2 separate regions of the Homo sapiens genome follow, and region 1 is linked to region 2. Evidence: fine-mapped expression QTL. Tissue or cell type: esophagus mucosa. Region 2 holds a variant in brackets; the other region holds the start of a gene. All regions are shown on one strand. Distances are between the middles of the regions.

Evidence for each region. PIP is the estimated chance that this variant, and not a neighbour inherited with it, causes the effect.
Region 1: it holds the start of A2ML1, and the variant in region 2 is fine-mapped to the expression of A2ML1 in esophagus mucosa (GTEx, PIP 0.97).

The regions. Positions count from the first base shown.
Region 1 is chr12:8,817,683-8,825,786 of GRCh38, forward strand. A2ML1 (alpha-2-macroglobulin like 1) reads left to right here and starts at 4,939. Exons shown (of 36, transcript NM_144670.6): 1 at 4,939-5,031; 2 at 5,500-5,683; 3 at 6,038-6,200. The coding sequence starts at 4,970. All of the region lies in intron 1 of A2ML1-AS1 (A2ML1 antisense RNA 1), which reads right to left. RefSeq lists a silencer at 1,691-1,985.
Region 2 is chr12:8,838,839-8,846,942 of GRCh38, forward strand. It overlaps A2ML1 (alpha-2-macroglobulin like 1), which reads left to right. Exons shown (of 36, transcript NM_144670.6): 10 at 275-384; 11 at 2,531-2,698; 12 at 4,296-4,523; 13 at 6,604-6,664; 14 at 7,239-7,384. Among named protein-coding and RNA genes, the nearest start is that of A2ML1-AS1, 12 kb to the left of the region's middle. The variant G/A (reference allele first, on the strand shown) is at 4,532.

The DNA.
Region 1 (8,104 bases), 21 kb before region 2:
TCGGACTAGGGTCCTCCCTGCTCTTCCCTTGGTAACACCTGTGCCCTGGGAGCAACAGTATTTGCCAGTCCTCCCCAGGGTCTTAAGGCTTTCGAGAGAGGAGCATGGGCAGCTGGGGCCTTTTCTGCAATGATAGCAAATACGGTCCTTGATGCCCATAGTACTGAGGGGGCTCTTTGTAGTCTCCCACTTGGCCCCCAGTATTTCCTGTGAACACCTGGTAGAGGTCATGGAAAGGAGCCTGTGGGTAAGTAAAGCCCTCCTTGCTTCTGTGACACCCAGAGGCTCCTTATAGTCACTCTAGTCTGCACTAGGCCTCTAGCAATTTATGAAAAATGTAGCTGCTTTCTTCTTGCATGCTTGTATGATGGCCTAAATACCTCCCATACTCTGGCACTGATGAGACACTCCACCCATCTGGTCTCTGCTCATGAGGATTGCATGTCCTTGAATTTCAGGCTACTTAGCTTACCTGCAACCTCAGCTCAGCTGTTTTGTTTTCTTTTGTTTTGTTTTGTGATGGAGTCTTGCTCTGTCACTCAGGCTGGAGTGCAATGGCGTGATCTCAGCTCACTGCAACCTCCACCTCCTGGGTTCAAGCAATTCTCCTGCCTCAGCCTCCCGAGTAGCTGGGATTACAGGCATGCACCACCATGCCTGGCTAATTTTTTTGTATTTTTAGTAAAGACAGGGTTTCACCATATTGGCCAGGCGGGTCTCGAACTCCTGACCTTGTGATCTGCTTGCCTCAGCCTCCCAAAGTGCTGGGATTACAGACGTGAGCCACCGCCCCCGGCCCAGCTCAGCATTTAGGTTCAACTTTTGGTTTAAGAAAAGTGATTTTGCAGTTTGTCTGGCTTTTTCATATTGTCAGAGAGGGGGCAATGCACTTTCCAGCTTATTTTTATTTTTTATTCTTAGAGACAGGGTCTTGCTCTGTTGCCCAGGCTGGAGTGCAGTGGCACAATCATGGCTCACTGCAGACTTGAAGTCCTGGGCTCTAGTGATCTTCCTGCCTCAGCCTCCCAAGTAGCTGGGCATGTGACACCACACCTAGCTAACTTTTAATTTTTTTTTTTGGTAGAGATGGGGTCTTACTATACTGCCCAGGTTGATCTCGAACTCCTGGCCTCAAACAACCCTCCCACCTTGCCTTCCCAAAGTGTTGAGATCACAGGCTCGAGCCACCAAGCCACACTCTTTCTAGCCTTTCAAATTCCAAGTTAAAGTGGAACTTGCCACATGTCGTTTTGTATCACTTTCCCCAACCCCTTTCTTTTCTTTTTTTTTTTTTTTTTGAGACGGAATTTCACTCTTGTTGCCCAGGCTGGAGTGCAATGTTATGCTCTCAGCTCACTGCAGCCTCCACCTCCCCAGTTCAAGTGATTTTCCTGCCTCAGCCTCCCGAGTAGCTGAGATTATAGGCGCCCACCACCATGCCTGGCTAATTTTTGTATTTTTGGGAGAGACAGGGTTTCGCCATGTTGACTAGGCTGGTCTCGAGCTCCTACGGATCGGCCTCCCAAAGTGCTGGGATTACAGGTGTGAGCCGCTGCACCAGCCCCAACCCCTTTCAATTAGCATTGCAAATAATTCCCCTTATCATGAAAACATTATTTTTAATGGCAGCAGAGTATTGCTTTATATTAACATGACAGTTTATTCAACCGAACTCTTTATGGGGCATTGTAATAGACTTAATGTTTTATGTTTGCAGCTCTTTACACCAACACTTTTCCTACTGTAGTGATTTCTTTGAACAATTTCCCCTCCCCAACTCCCTGTGGTTCTAAAGGGGTGGCCAATCACAGTACCCCATCACCCTGGCCTTTAGGTGGGAGAATGACCCAGGCCCTGCCTATCATACCCTCCTGACTACAGTGACTGATTCAGAGGTGAGCCAGCGAGAGAGGGAGGAACACAGTCCTTCTTCGGGAATTTCTATAACATAGGTGAAAAATTTTGTCAGTTGGGGTCGTGGAGCTGAACGAATATGGCTTGAGGGCTCCCAGCTGCCGTCCTCCCTACGACTTGAAGAAAAGCTTGTGTGCAGTAGGAGAAAATGAACCAATCAGAGACAAGTACACAAGAGAGAAGGACTGGGAGGAGTCGGCCCTGGCTGCACCACGTCTCCACTCCTGGGCTGTCAAGTTTTTCAAGGTGCTCTGGTTCCATAAGCTCATTCTTCCTGTTGGATCCATTCCAGTTACCAAAAACACTTTTTTGTTTAGGCTGGTTTGATATAGGATGATCATTGGTCCCAGAGAGCATCCTGGCTAATCTATTTTATTATTTTATTTTATGAGACAAGTTCTCACTGTTGCCCAGGCTGGAGTGCAGTGGTGCTATCATGGCTCATTGCAGCCTTGAACCCCTGGGCTCAAGCAAATCCTACCATCTCAGCCTCCAGAGTAGCTGGGACTACAGGCGTGCACCACCACACTCAGCTAATTTTAAAGAAATGTTTTATACAGACTGAAACTGCCTTTGCAAAATTGTAACAGGAAATTATGACAGTGCAAGAAGTCAGACCTAACCGACTCTATCTTGCTTCTAACCCTTAAGCTGTCCTTGTTTATTCCTGGGCATAGGCCGAAGTAACTTTGGGAAGGAATTCAGTTCATGGTTTGACTCTGAAACAAAATTGATAACAGCCCTTTCCCAAAAAGACCCCCTTCTTGCCCGGGGTCCAGTCTGCCTTTGTAGGACTAACAGATTAGCTACAAGATTAGAAATTACAGTTTAGAGGCCGGGTGCAGTGGCTCGCGCCTGTAATCCCAGCACTTTGGGAGGCCAAGGCGGGCGGATCACGAGGTCAGGAGATCGAGACCATCCTGGCTGACACGGTGAAACCCCGTCTCTACTAAAAATACAAAAAATTAGCCGGGCGTGGTGGCGGGCGCCTGTAGTCCCAGCTACTCGGGAGGCTGAGGCAGGAGAATGGCGTGAACCCGGGAGGCGGAGCTTGCAGTGAGCCGAGATCGCGCCATTGCACTTCAGCCTGGGCGGTAGAGCCAGACTCTGTCTCAAAAAAAAAAAAAAAGAAATTACAGTTTAGAGGTCATGCAGCCTCTGGCTCCAAGAGTCTGAACCTCCCCAAATTGCTCCTGGGGATAACATCACTGCTGTAAAACCTAAGATCAGTAATTGAGTTATTTTGCAGGCCCTGCACTCCATGGGATCAGCTGACACCACACAGACCAGTCATCTGGCCCAACCAGTTCTGCCATCTCACCCAGGAACAGAAGACATTAAGAAAATCTAACTTCGACCCTCTATGATTCCATCTCCAACCTGAGCAATCAGCACTCCCCACTTCCCAAGCCCCTACCTGCCAAATTATCTTTAAAAACTCTGATCCACGAAGGCTCAAGGATTTAAGTAATAATAAAACTCCAGTCTCCCACACAGCCGGCTCTGCGTGAATTACTCTTTTGCCATTGCAGTTCCCCTGTCTTGATAAATCGGCTCTGTCTAGGCAGCAAGCAAGGTGAATCCATTGGGTGGTTACAAAACGGGGTCTCACTATGTTGCCCAGGCTGGTCTCAAACTCTTGGGCTCAAGCAATCCTCCAGCTTCTGACTCCCAAAAGCTGGGATTATAGGCATGAGCCACTGCACTTAGACTAATTTATATTTTAGGTGACTTCTAAGTATTACCATCATAAAGAACACTGTGGGCTGGGCACGGTGGCTCATACCTGTAATCCCAGCACTTTGGGAGGCTGAGGTGGTCCCTGGAGCTCAGGAGTTCGAGACTAGCCTGGGCAACATGGTGAAACCCTGTCTCTATTAAAAATACAAAACAATTAGCCAGGAGTGTTGGTGCCTACCTGTGGTCCCAGCTACTCAGGAGGTGGAGGTGGGAGGATCGCTTGAGCCCAGGAGGTCAAAGCTGCAGTGGGCTGAGATTGTGCCACTGCACTCCAGCCTGGGTGATAAAGTGAGACTCTACTTCAAAAAAATAAAAAATAAAGAAAAGAAAAAAAAGAAAGAACAGTGTGAAAAAACTCAGTGTTACACTTGTGCATACATGCATGCTGTCCTTTTTTTCCTCATTAAGAAACATTTCCAGAGTAGGAGTTGCTGAGTGAAAGAATATGCAAATCTCAAAGGCTTTGGTGTGTATTACAAAATTGCCATGAGAAAGTTATCCACATTCTATTTTCTCTAGGACTGTGTGTGTCCCTATTTCCATACAGTCACAACAATACTGAGTAGTATTAATTTTTTTTTTTTTTGAGACAGAGTCTCGTTGTGTCACCCACGCTGGAGTAAAGTGGCATGATCTCGGCTCACTGCAACCTCCACCTCCCGGGTTCAAGCGATTCTCCTGCCTCAGCCTCCCAAGTAGCTGGGACTATAGGCACCCACCACTATGCCCAGCTGATTTTTTTTTCTTTGTATTTTTAGTAGAGACAGGGTTTCACTATGTTGGCCAGGCTGGTCTTGAACTCCTGACCTGGTGATCTGCCCACCTCAACCCCCCAAAGTGCTGGGATTACAGGCGTGAGCCACTGTGACCGGCCAAGTTTACTGCTTTTCTATTGAAACTGTTCTCATACCCGTGTTCCCAACTACACCTTAATTGAATAATAAAAGAAAATAAGGACATTAAATGAGAACAGGAATTGGAATGAGACCAGAAAAAAAGGGAGGAGTTCAAAATATGTTCTGAGAGCTTTACCATTATGAATACTCAGCTCTGGTTTTCCCCCAAAACTGGCTGAACCAGTATGGATGTTCCAGGCAGAAACAACTTTAAAGAAGTGAATAGTGGCCCTACCCTGGTCCACCACCTAACCTGGTGGTTACAGAAGGAGGAACACAGTCCTCCTGTGTTCCAGGTGCCAGGAGGTGACTGACTATAGCATCAGTCATCACTGCACACCCTACCTGGAATTAGTATATAAAGCTACGCGGAGCGATCTCTGCCCCTGACCCTGGAAAAATCTGTCTCACCCACAAAGATGTGGGCTCAGCTCCTTCTAGGAATGTTGGCCCTATCACCAGCCATTGCAGAAGAACTTCCGTGAGTGCTTGGTGTCAGAATTGGTTTATTAGGGCAGCGGCTTCTTCGCCTAACTTTCTCAAACATTTATATGGAGATGGGGAGATCAACTTTGGTTTATCTTAATTTCCTCCTCCTTTTTTCTCTTCTTTGGTTCCACTGATCCTTTACCCAGAGAGGGAGGCTGACGCATGAAGAGGAAGCTTTAAAAAAGATAAATATTAAAATGTGCCCTGTTTTCTGAAATAGGCCTAATTTCCTCCTTGGTGCTCTAGGCATGTGTGCTCGGTGAGGGCCTCCTGATGGCGGAAGTTGAAGACTGTGCACTGAGTCGTTGCCCCTCTGCTTCTTGTAGAAAATGAGGTGCATAAGGAAGGCAGGGGCTTGGTCTGTCTAATTCACTGCTACTTGCTGAGCGCTTAGGAGAGTGCTGGATTTTTCGAGTGAATGAATCATTATTGCCCTGAAATCCTTCTGCTCCTTTAATAGAAACTACCTGGTGACATTACCAGCCCGGCTAAATTTCCCCTCCGTTCAGAAGGTTTGTTTGGACCTGAGCCCTGGGTACAGTGATGTTAAATTCACGGTTACTCTGGAGACCAAGGACAAGACCCAGAAGTTGCTAGAATACTCTGGACTGAAGAAGAGGCACTTACATTGTATCTCCTTTCTTGTAAGCACAGACTCAGCCCTCACTCGAATCCCTTACTTGCCTATTCTCCTCCCTAGGCTCACTATAATCTACTTTAAGTATAATTTCTGTTATCTTTTGCCACGGCCTCTAAACCTATTTTTTCTCAACTTAACCTCAATCCCCGGCTATAACTCACCCACGGTTTCCTCGACCTAGGATTTCTCCCTTTAGTTCCTGACCTTAATTCTTCCTCGTGGTAATTTGTTTTATGTCTCTATCCTTGCTACCCCCATCTAACTCAGCTCTTTCCTTTAACTCACTGTTGGGTTGAGACCAGTTGATTCTGTTCCCCCAATCCCTTACCCCTCCCCAGAAGTCCCCTTTCTTGGTCAGGTACCACCTCCTGCTGGTGGCACAGAAGAAGTGGCCACAATCCGGGTGTCGGGAGTTGGAAATAACATCAGCTTTGAGGAGAAGAAAAAGGTTCTAATTCAGAGGCAGGGGAACGGCACCTTTGTACAGACTGACAAACCTCTCTACACCCCAGGGCAGCAAGGTAAGAGTCACATATTTGGGGTTCGACTAAAACCTGGGGAAACCGCTGTGCACAGGGGTAAAGAGGGGATTTGTGGTTTGACAGTAGGCTTTGGAAAAAAAGGAGTGCAGAGGAGAGGAAAATCTGGGGGGATTAAGTAGTGCAAGTGTTGAATACATGCTGCGCTACACAAGCAAGAGAAGTAGGTGGGGGTTGCTACTGAGTTTGTGTATCTAAAACAAAAGTACACATTTCTTCTGGAATAGAATTTGGCAAGTATAACTGGGTTGCTGGGCCTTACAACAAACTGCTTGTAAATGGCTAAGAAAGCACTGAGGGCATTTGGCTTGAGCTACTGGGGTTTTTTTTTTTTTTTTTTTTTTTTTTTGTATTTGTTCATTCGTCCTTACAGGGGCACTTCATTCTGAGATTTCAAAGTCAGGCACCCTGAAAAGAAACTATGTTTGGGTTTTTTTTATTTTTTTATTTAAAATTTTTGTGGGTACATAGCTGGTGTATATATATTTATGGGGTAGATGAGATATTTTTATACACACACACAATGTGTAATCATTACATCAGGGTACATGTGTATCCATCACCTCAAGCATTTATCATTTCCTTGTATTACAAACAATCCAATTATACTCTCTTAGTAATTTTTAAATGTGCAATAAATTATTGTTGACTGTAGTCACTCTTTGTGCTAAAAACTACAAGATCCCTAGATCTTATTCATTCTAGCTAAATATATTTTTGTACCCATTAACCATTCCCACCCCACCCCTCATCCTGCCCACCATTACCCTTCCCAGCATCTGGTAACCATCATTCTGTTCTCTCTCTCTCTTTCAAAAAAATTTTTTTCCTTTTACCTTATTTTTTTCCACACACTTAAAAATTATTATTCTATTCTCTATCTCCACGACTTCAATTGTTTTAATTTTTAGCTCCCACAAATAAATGAGAACATGGAAAGTTTGTCTTTCTGTGTCTGGTTTATTTTACTTAACATAATGACCTCCTGTTCCATTCAGGCTGTTGCAAAGGATGGGGTCTCATTCTTTTTTATGGCTGAATAGTACTCCATTATGTATGTGTACCACATTTTTTAATCCATTTTTTATCATCTGTTCATAGACACTTAGGTTGCTTCCATATCTTGGCTATTGTGAATACTGATGCCATAAACATGGCAGCACAGATAGTCTTTGATATACTGATTTCCTTTCTTTTGTATATATACTTAGCAGTGGGCTTGCAGGATTATATGGAAGCTCTATTTTTAGTTTTTTTCAGAAACCTCCAAACTGTTCTCCATAGTGGTTGTACTAATTTACATTCCCACCAACAGTGTATGAGGGTTCTCTTTTCTCCACATCCTCACCAGCATTTATTATTGTTTGTCTTTTGGAAAAAAGCCATTTTAACTGGGGTGAGATAATATCTCATTGTAGTTTTGATTTACATTTCTCTGACAGTCAATGATTTGAGCACCTTTTTTATATACCTGTTTGCCATTTGTATGTCTTCTTTTGAGAAATGTCTATTCAGATCTTTTTGCCCGTTCTTTAATCTGATTACTAGATGTTTTCCTATACAGCTGTCTGAGCTCCTTATATATTCTGGTTATTAATCCCTTGTCAGATGGGTAGTTTGCAAATATTTTCTTTCATTCTGTGGGTTGTCTCTTTGTTGATTGTTTCCTTTGCTGTGCAGAAGCTTTTTAACTTGATGTGATCCTGTTTGTCCATTTTTGCTTTGGTTTCTTGTGCTCCTTGGGTATTACTCAAGAAATCTTTGCCCAGACCAATGTTCTGGAGAGTTTCCCCAAAGTTTTCTTATATATAATAGTTTCATAGATTGAGGTATTAGATTTAAATCTTTCATCCATTTTGACTTGATTTTTCTATATGGAGAGAGAT
Region 2 (8,104 bases):
CAGGAGGTGGAGCTTGCAGTGAGCCGAGATCGTGCCACTGCACTCCAGCCTGGGCAACAGAGCGAGACTCCATCTTAAAAAAAAAAAAAAAAAAAAAAGAAGAAATACTACATACTTCTCCAAAAGATTGGGGAGGTGAGGTTGGTTTGGATCTTTGGCCAGAAATACATTCAACTTCATCCCTCTGCCACCATTCTCTCAGAGACTTGACATTAAACGTGAAGATGAGAATATCAGGTGCCTAGATCTTTATACATCTGGTTTCCCTCTGCAGGTGTGGAGGCCAATGCCACTCAGAATATCTACATTTCTCCACAAATGGGATCAATGACCTTTGAAGACACCAGCAATTTTTACCATCCAAATTTCCCCTTCAGTGGGAAGGTATGTTAAAACTTTTCTCTGCATAGACAAAAAAATGCATAACCATCTACTTTGCCTCCTTCCTGCAGCCATAGCCACATAGCTAACTTAGTGCTGTTCCAAGTACTTTATGTGTATTCATTTTAATCTTTAGAATAATGCAATGAGGCAGGCACTGTATTGGCCCCATTTTATGGATACTGAGACAGGCAACAGAGGCTAAGTGATTTTTCCAAGGTGATCACAAATAGATGGGAACTATGACCAAATCCAGGAAGCCTGCCTCCCGGGTATACACTCTCCACTCCCTGTACTCTGCTGCCCCAATCCCATAGAAGAAGTGCCTTGAATATTAATGACACCTTAGGGGTCTTTCTAATGCCAGGGGCTGATCTTCTAATGTCTAAATCTTCATATTTAAGAGCTGCAGGGTTTCTAGAGAAATCATCCAGCCTGGTCTCCTGCATCTAGGCAAGGTTAATATGAAACTTTCCTTGACAGCCATGTATAGCTCTGTAAGCAATTTTGTTTTTCTTTCTGTTTTTGTTTTGTTTTGTTTTGTTTTGAGACAGTCTCGCTCTTGTTGCCCAGCCTGAAGTGCAATGGCGCGATCTCTGTTCACCGCAACCTCCACCTCCCAGGTTCAAGCGATTCTCCTGTCTCAGCCTCCTGAGTAGCTGGGATTACAGACATGTGTCCCCATGCCTGGCTAATTTTGTATTTTTAGTAGAGATGGGGTTTCTCCATGTTGGTCAGGCTGGTCTTGAACTCCCGACCTCAGGTGATCCGTCCACCTGGGCCTCCCAAAGTGCTGGGATTACAGGAGTGAGCCACTGTGCCTGACTAGCAATTTTCTTTAGAGATTTTAAAATTTCCGGCAGGGCGTGGTGGCTCACGTCTGCAGTCCTAGCACTTTGGGAGGCTGAGGTGGGCAGATCACTTGAGGCCAAGAGTTCGAGACCAGCCTGGCCAACATGGCGAAAACTTGTCTCTGCTAAAAATACAAAAATTAGCCAGGCATGGTGGCGCATGCCTATAATCCCAGCTACTCGGGAGTCTGAGGCACGAGAATGGCTTGAACACAGGAGGCAGGGGGTGCAGTGAGCTAAGATCATGCCACTGCACTCCAGCCTGGGCGATAGAGCGAGACTGTCTCAAAAAAAAAAAAAAAAGATAAATACATAATTAAATTTTCTTTGCTAGTGTTTTCTTTCTGATATCTAACTGAATTTCTCTCTTGTTCAGCTTATCTTTCTTTACTTCTTGTACAGCTGGTCCACACAATAATATTGCACACATAGAGATGCATTTATTCCTCAGTTATCATTTCTCTAGACCAAGGGTGGGTGCAAATTATTTTTAGAGCCTAAGGATTACACAGTTTGGGAGGGTAGGGGATTCGCTTTAAGAAAAAGAAAGCAAAATAGGCTGGGCACAATGGCTCATGCCTGTAATCTCAGCACTTTGGGAGGCTGAGGCGGGCGAATCACGAGGTCAGGAGTTCGAAACCAGCCTGACCAACATGGTGAAAACCCGTCCCTGCTAAAAATACAAAAATTAGCCAGGTATGGTGGCACGGGCCTATAGTCCCACTACTTGGGAGGCTGAGGCAGGAGAATCGCTTGAACCCAGGAGGTAGAGGTTGCAGTGAGCTGAGCTCGTCCCACTGCACTCCAGCCTGGGCGACAGACTGAGACTCCATCTCAAAAAAAAAAAGAAAGAAAGGAAGGAAGAAAGGAAGGAAAGAAGGAAGGAAGGAAGGAAAGAAGGAAGGAAAGAAGGAAGGAAGGAAGGAAGGAAGGAAGGAAGGACGGAAGGAAGGAAGGAAGGAAGGAAAGAAAAAAGAAAGCAAAACAACGTGCAGAACCTTTGAAGGAGCCTGTGCATATGAAGAGCCCTGAAGCTTCATTAGCCACCGGGCAAATCTAGCTCTGCTCTGGGCTGTTACTTCTGTTTGTTTTTCGGTTCCTCACAGATCCTAGTTCAAAAGCTTGAATCACATTTATCTTTTTCAGGACTCTTTCCTGAAATGTATTCTTAGAAATTCTGTTATTACTTTTAGTGCCAAAAACCACAATTAGTTTGCACCAACCTAATATTTCACTTTACCTCATACTCAAGCTTACTCCAAACCTAATTCTAATCCGTAATGATCTTTGTCCTTCAGATAAGAGTTAGGGGCCATGATGACTCCTTCCTCAAGAACCATCTAGTGTTTCTGGTGATTTATGGCACAAATGGAACCTTCAACCAGACCCTGGTTACTGATAACAATGGCCTAGCTCCCTTTACCTTGGAGACATCCGGTTGGAATGGGACAGACGTTTCTCTGGAGGTAAGCATGGACGGAGGACCAGCTTCCTAGAAAGGAAGGCTTCCCTGAAGGAAAACTTCAGAATTTTCCTGTTTCCTATTCTCCCCTCTGCTTGGAATTACATCTTTCTCACTCACAAGTCCTGCTCTCCCGTTGACAAAAAGTTTTCCTTAGATGCTTTCTGTTTTTAATATCAATCAAATAAATAGTCCTTACTTGGATGAAAACTACTATTTCTACTAATACATCTTTTAACTTACCCCCATCTCTATCTGATCCTATCTATATATGAAGTTAGAGCAGGGAGGAATAGGTGACTCAGAGTCTTTTTCTTTCTCTTTCCCCTTCCCATCCCCTCATTACTTAATAAAAACAGCAAACAAGAGAACTCTAGATTCTAGATAACTTATAAGTATCAATTATCAACTGCCACAACAATGCTTCTTATCAAACAGCTACAAACTTCAGTATCGTGCAGCAGAAAGCATTCACTGCTTGTGCATCTGGGGCATTCAGTCAGGCAGCTCTGCTGATTTCGATTTCCAGAACTGTCTGCAGATCGGCTGGCCATAAGCTGCTGCTCCGCATGCCTCTCATGCAGGAGCCAGCTAGCCCAGGTATATTCTTATGGCAGTGATGAGGTGCAAGTGCAAAAGCTGATGTTCAGGGCTTTTCCAAACCTCTGTATATTGCATATGTTTTTTTCTTTTTTTTTTTTTTGAGACAGAGTCTCACTCTGTCACCCAGGCTGGAGTGCAGTGGCGTGATCTCGGCTCACTGCAAGCTCCGCCTCCCCGGTTCACGCCATTCTCCTGCCTCAGCCTCCCCGAGTAGCTGGGACTACAGGCGCCTGCCACCACGCCCGGCTAATTTTTTGTATTTTTTAGTAGAGATGGGGTTTCACTGTGTTAGCCAGGATGGTCTCGATCTCCTGACCTCGTGATCCGCCCGCCTTGGCCTCCCAAAGTGCTGGGATTACAGGCGTGAGCCACCGCGCCCGGCCCCTGTTGCATATGTTAACACCCCTTTCCCAACAAATCGAACAGTGGGCACAGACTAGGAGGGTACTGGAAGACCACATGCTCAAGGATGCTGATCTCGGAGGGGGCGGGGTGCGTGTGAGGAATTGGAGCCATTAATGAGATCGTTCAACCTCAGGACTTAAGCAAACACATACTACTTGCCTTGTGGCTAATTTGACTATTTCTTTACTCTAGGCATGACTCAGTTACTCAGAAATAATTATTTTTCAATCTTAGTGTCTTCTGTGCCTAGTTTTCTTATCCCTGAAATATAATCTTTGATTTCTATATAATCTAAGTCACGTTCATCTATCCCAGGAATATCTGTGAAGATACATCACCCACAATTTCCTCTCATTTAGTAACTATAATTCAGCCCTTCTGTCGCTCTCCTACATACCAAAATATTGCTGTACACAGCTACGTTTATGGATTCTTTATCCATCCTTGGCTGGACCGCTAATGAAATACCCACATGCCATTCTCAGGCAGTGAAGATTTGAGAGAAAGAGCTCTATTTGAAAACCGTAACAAGTCCGTGGGGTTTCCATGGTTGGAGCACATGCTAAAATTCTCTCTCTCTCTTTTATTCTCAGGGAAAGTTTCAAATGGAAGACTTAGTATATAATCCGGAACAAGTGCCACGTTACTACCAAAATGCCTACCTGCACCTGCGACCCTTCTACAGCACAACCCGCAGCTTCCTTGGCATCCACCGGCTAAACGGCCCCTTGAAATGTGGCCAGCCCCAGGAAGTGCTGGTGGATTATTACATCGACCCGGCCGATGCAAGCCCTGACCAAGAGATCAGCTTCTCCTACTATGTGAGACC[G/A]GGAAACGGGGACGGGTGAGAGTATGCTGGGAAGGAAAGAGAATGAGAAGAGTCAGCCAGAGGGTGCACCTAGGCTATCTGAATTGCAGATGCACATCTAATTAAAAACAATTTTAAAGCCACACTAAAAAAGTAAAAGAACAGTTGACATTAATTTTAAATGTATTTTTTATTTAACCCATTATATCCAAAATATTAACATTTTAACACGAAAGCCATATAAAAAGTTTTAATAGATATTTTACATTCTTGTTTCAACGGTGTCTTTGAAACTCAGTATGTATTTTACACTTAAAGCGTATCTCAGTTTGGACTGAGCACATTTCAAGTATTCAATATTCCTTTTTTTTTCTTTTTTTTTTTTTTTGAGACACAGTCTCGCTCAGTTGCCCAGGCTGGAGTGCAGTGGTGTGTTCTTGGCTCACTGCAAGCTCCACCTCCCAGGTTCACGCCATTCTCCTGTCTCAGCCTCCCAAGTAGCTGGGACTACAGGCGCCCGCCACCACGCCCAGCTAATTTTTTTTGTATTTTTAGTAGAGACGGGGTTTCACCATGTTAACTAGGATGGTCTCGATCTCCTGACCTCGTGATCCACCTGCCTCAGTCTCCCAGAGTGCTGGGATTACAGGCATGAGCCACCGCGCCCGGCCTCAAGTATTCAATATTCCTATGTGGCTATGAGATACTGCATGGCCCAGTATAGGTGTAAGAGATGGAAAACATTGGGGGAAGAAAGAGATTCTGAGCAGGAACACAGGAAAATTGTGTGGGAAAATAAAATGAGGAATTACCTGAGAAAATAGTGCTGGCCAGGACCAAAAAAAACAAAAACAAAAACAAAACCAGCTGGGTGGTTGGGAGGGAGAGTGGGGAGGGATGGGACTCAGGATACTTTTTTTTTTTTTTTAATTTATATGAGACAGGGTTTCGCCATGTTGGCCAGGCTGGTCTTGAACTCCTGACCTCAGGTGATCTGCCCACCTTGGCCTCCCAAAGTGCTGGGACTGCAGGCATGAGCCACCGAGCCCAGCCAGGATACATTTCATTCTGTGTTCCATTGGTCAATATTATCAAATAGATGATATGGGGTTAAATTCACATCGATAGCAGCCTCATTGGGGAAATAAAATCATAACTTGGTAGCCTGAAAGCAATGTATAAGGATAAGCAGCTTTCCTGTCACCTTGGTGACAGTCAGGAAGTAGAATGGAAACCTCAGGTTTGATGGCTCGGAGCCTCTTTGTTCCGTTATCCTCCTGTCAGTCTATGAGAGACTTTCTCCCCTCTGGATCATTGCAGTAGCTTCCATGGTTTCAGTGTTGTCGTTAAGTGAAAAAAAAAAAATCATCCTAATACAACGAAAAGAGAAAAGATAGGTGGAAAATAACAAGTCCAGTGATAAAGCGGGCTCTGTCTTCAGGACCGAAGTGTGGGGAGGTGTAGGACAAAAGTGAAGTTAGGGCCGAGCCACGTGGAATGGCTAATGCTGGGCAGGCGTCCAAGGAACCGACCTTGGAGCCCTGCAGGAGCGTGGGATGAGAGCCTGCTTGCAAACAAGATCACCGAGTTCTGTTTCAAGTGAGAGTGGACGGGAAGGGGGAGTTAGAAGAGGAGATTTCTCCTCTAGAGGGTTCAATGTCAGAAGGGCTCAGGGTGGTTTAGGATGAAATTATTTCCACTGAATTTTAAATTGAGCTGTAATTAAAAAACACTTATGAGGATAGATTTTCGCTGACTTTCTGTTACAAAGATTATAAGAAAATAAAATTTGGAGATCTTCAAGAAATGGCAGACAGTTATCTATGGTGAGGAACAATTTCTATGCTGTCAGACTCCTCCCATCCACCTGCGTGGTTCTCAGCCAGACCTCCAACTGCAGGAGGAGCCACCAGGACCCGTTGGCAGCATCCTGCATTTGTCAAGCTAGTGGATGCTGGGTGAGGTATTGACCCGGACTCTGAACTGTGAAAGGAACCTCTCCTCATGAAGGGATGCAGAGATGCTCTGGAAGTTGGTCCAAGGTGAAATTACTGTAACTTCTGTGCAGTTGATTCTTTTCTTTTCTTCTTTAGTTAATAGGGAAAGGAAGTTTGGTGATGGAGGGGCAGAAACACCTGAACTCTAAGAAGAAAGGTGAGTGTACATGCTTTTCCCGGAAGCAAACAGGATATTTTTAAATTCCAGAAAACAATTCTTGGCCAGGCGCGGTGGCTCATGCCTGTAATCCCAGCACTTTGGGAGGCCGAGGTGGGCGGATCACGATGTCGGGAGATCGAGACCATCTTGGCTAACATGGTGAAACCCCGTCTCTACTAAAAATACAAAAAAAAATTAGCCGGACGTCGGGGCGGGCCCCTGTAGTCCCAGCTACTCGGGAGGCTGAGGCAGGAGAATGGCGTGAACCCGGGAGGCGGAGCTTGCAGTGAGCCGAGATCATGCCACTGCGCTCCAGCCTGGGCGACAGAGCGAGACTCCGTCTCAAAAAAAAAAAAAAATAAATAAAATAAAATAAAATAAAATAAAAAAATTCTTATCCACAGAAGTAATGGAATTGGAGCACTAACAGTTATCACAGGAGAAGAGAAAAATGAGAAGTAACTTGCACCATGGTGCCTGCACTGGCTCAGTGAAAAGTACATATGGTTAGATGCCGTTGGCAGGTGAATGTGCATTCTGATTTTCCTGTATATTCCCTCTTCTCTTTCAGGACTGAAAGCCTCCTTCTCTCTCTCACTGACCTTCACTTCGAGACTGGCCCCTGATCCTTCCCTGGTGATCTATGCCATTTTTCCCAGTGGAGGTGTTGTAGCTGACAAAATTCAGTTCTCAGTCGAGATGTGCTTTGACAATCAGGTAAAATGATAGCGGAGAAGGGTGAAGATAAAAGTTGGGCATAGAGAAAGATCTTGTGTGTGCTGCGGTTGGAAACAAGACAAGTCAGGGAAAGAAGATAGTGTTGACGTTGGATGTTGTATTATATTTATATCTTTAGTGTTTGGGGTTTGTGTTGAAATCCATCTCTCTCCTACTTTTTATTTTAAGAAGTCATGCTGGCTGAGGTGCAGTGGCTCACTCCTGTAATCCCAGTGCTTTGGGAGGCCAAGGCAGAGGGATTTCTTTAGGTCAAGGGTTCAAGACCAGCCTGGACAACATAGCAAGATCCTGTCTGTACAAAAAAATTTTTAATTAGCTGGGTGTGCAGCACTTTGGGAGGCCGAGGTGGGTGGATCACCTGATGCTAGGAGTTCAAGACCAGCCTGGTGAAACCGTGTCTCTACTAAAAATACAAAAATTAGCCAAGCATGGTGGTGGATGCCTGCAATCCCAGCTACTTGGGAGGCTGAGGCAGGAGAATTGCATGAACCCAGGAGACGGAGGTTGCAGTGAGCAAAGAACACACCATTACACTCCAGCCTGAGTGACAGAGTGAGACTCTGTCTCAAAAAAAAAAAAAAAAATTAGTTGAGTGTGGTGATGCATACCTGTAGTCCCAGCTAGTCGGAAGGCTGAAGCAGGTGTATCGCTTGAGCCCAGGAGTTCAAGGCTGCAGAGCGAGACCCTGTCTATTTTTTT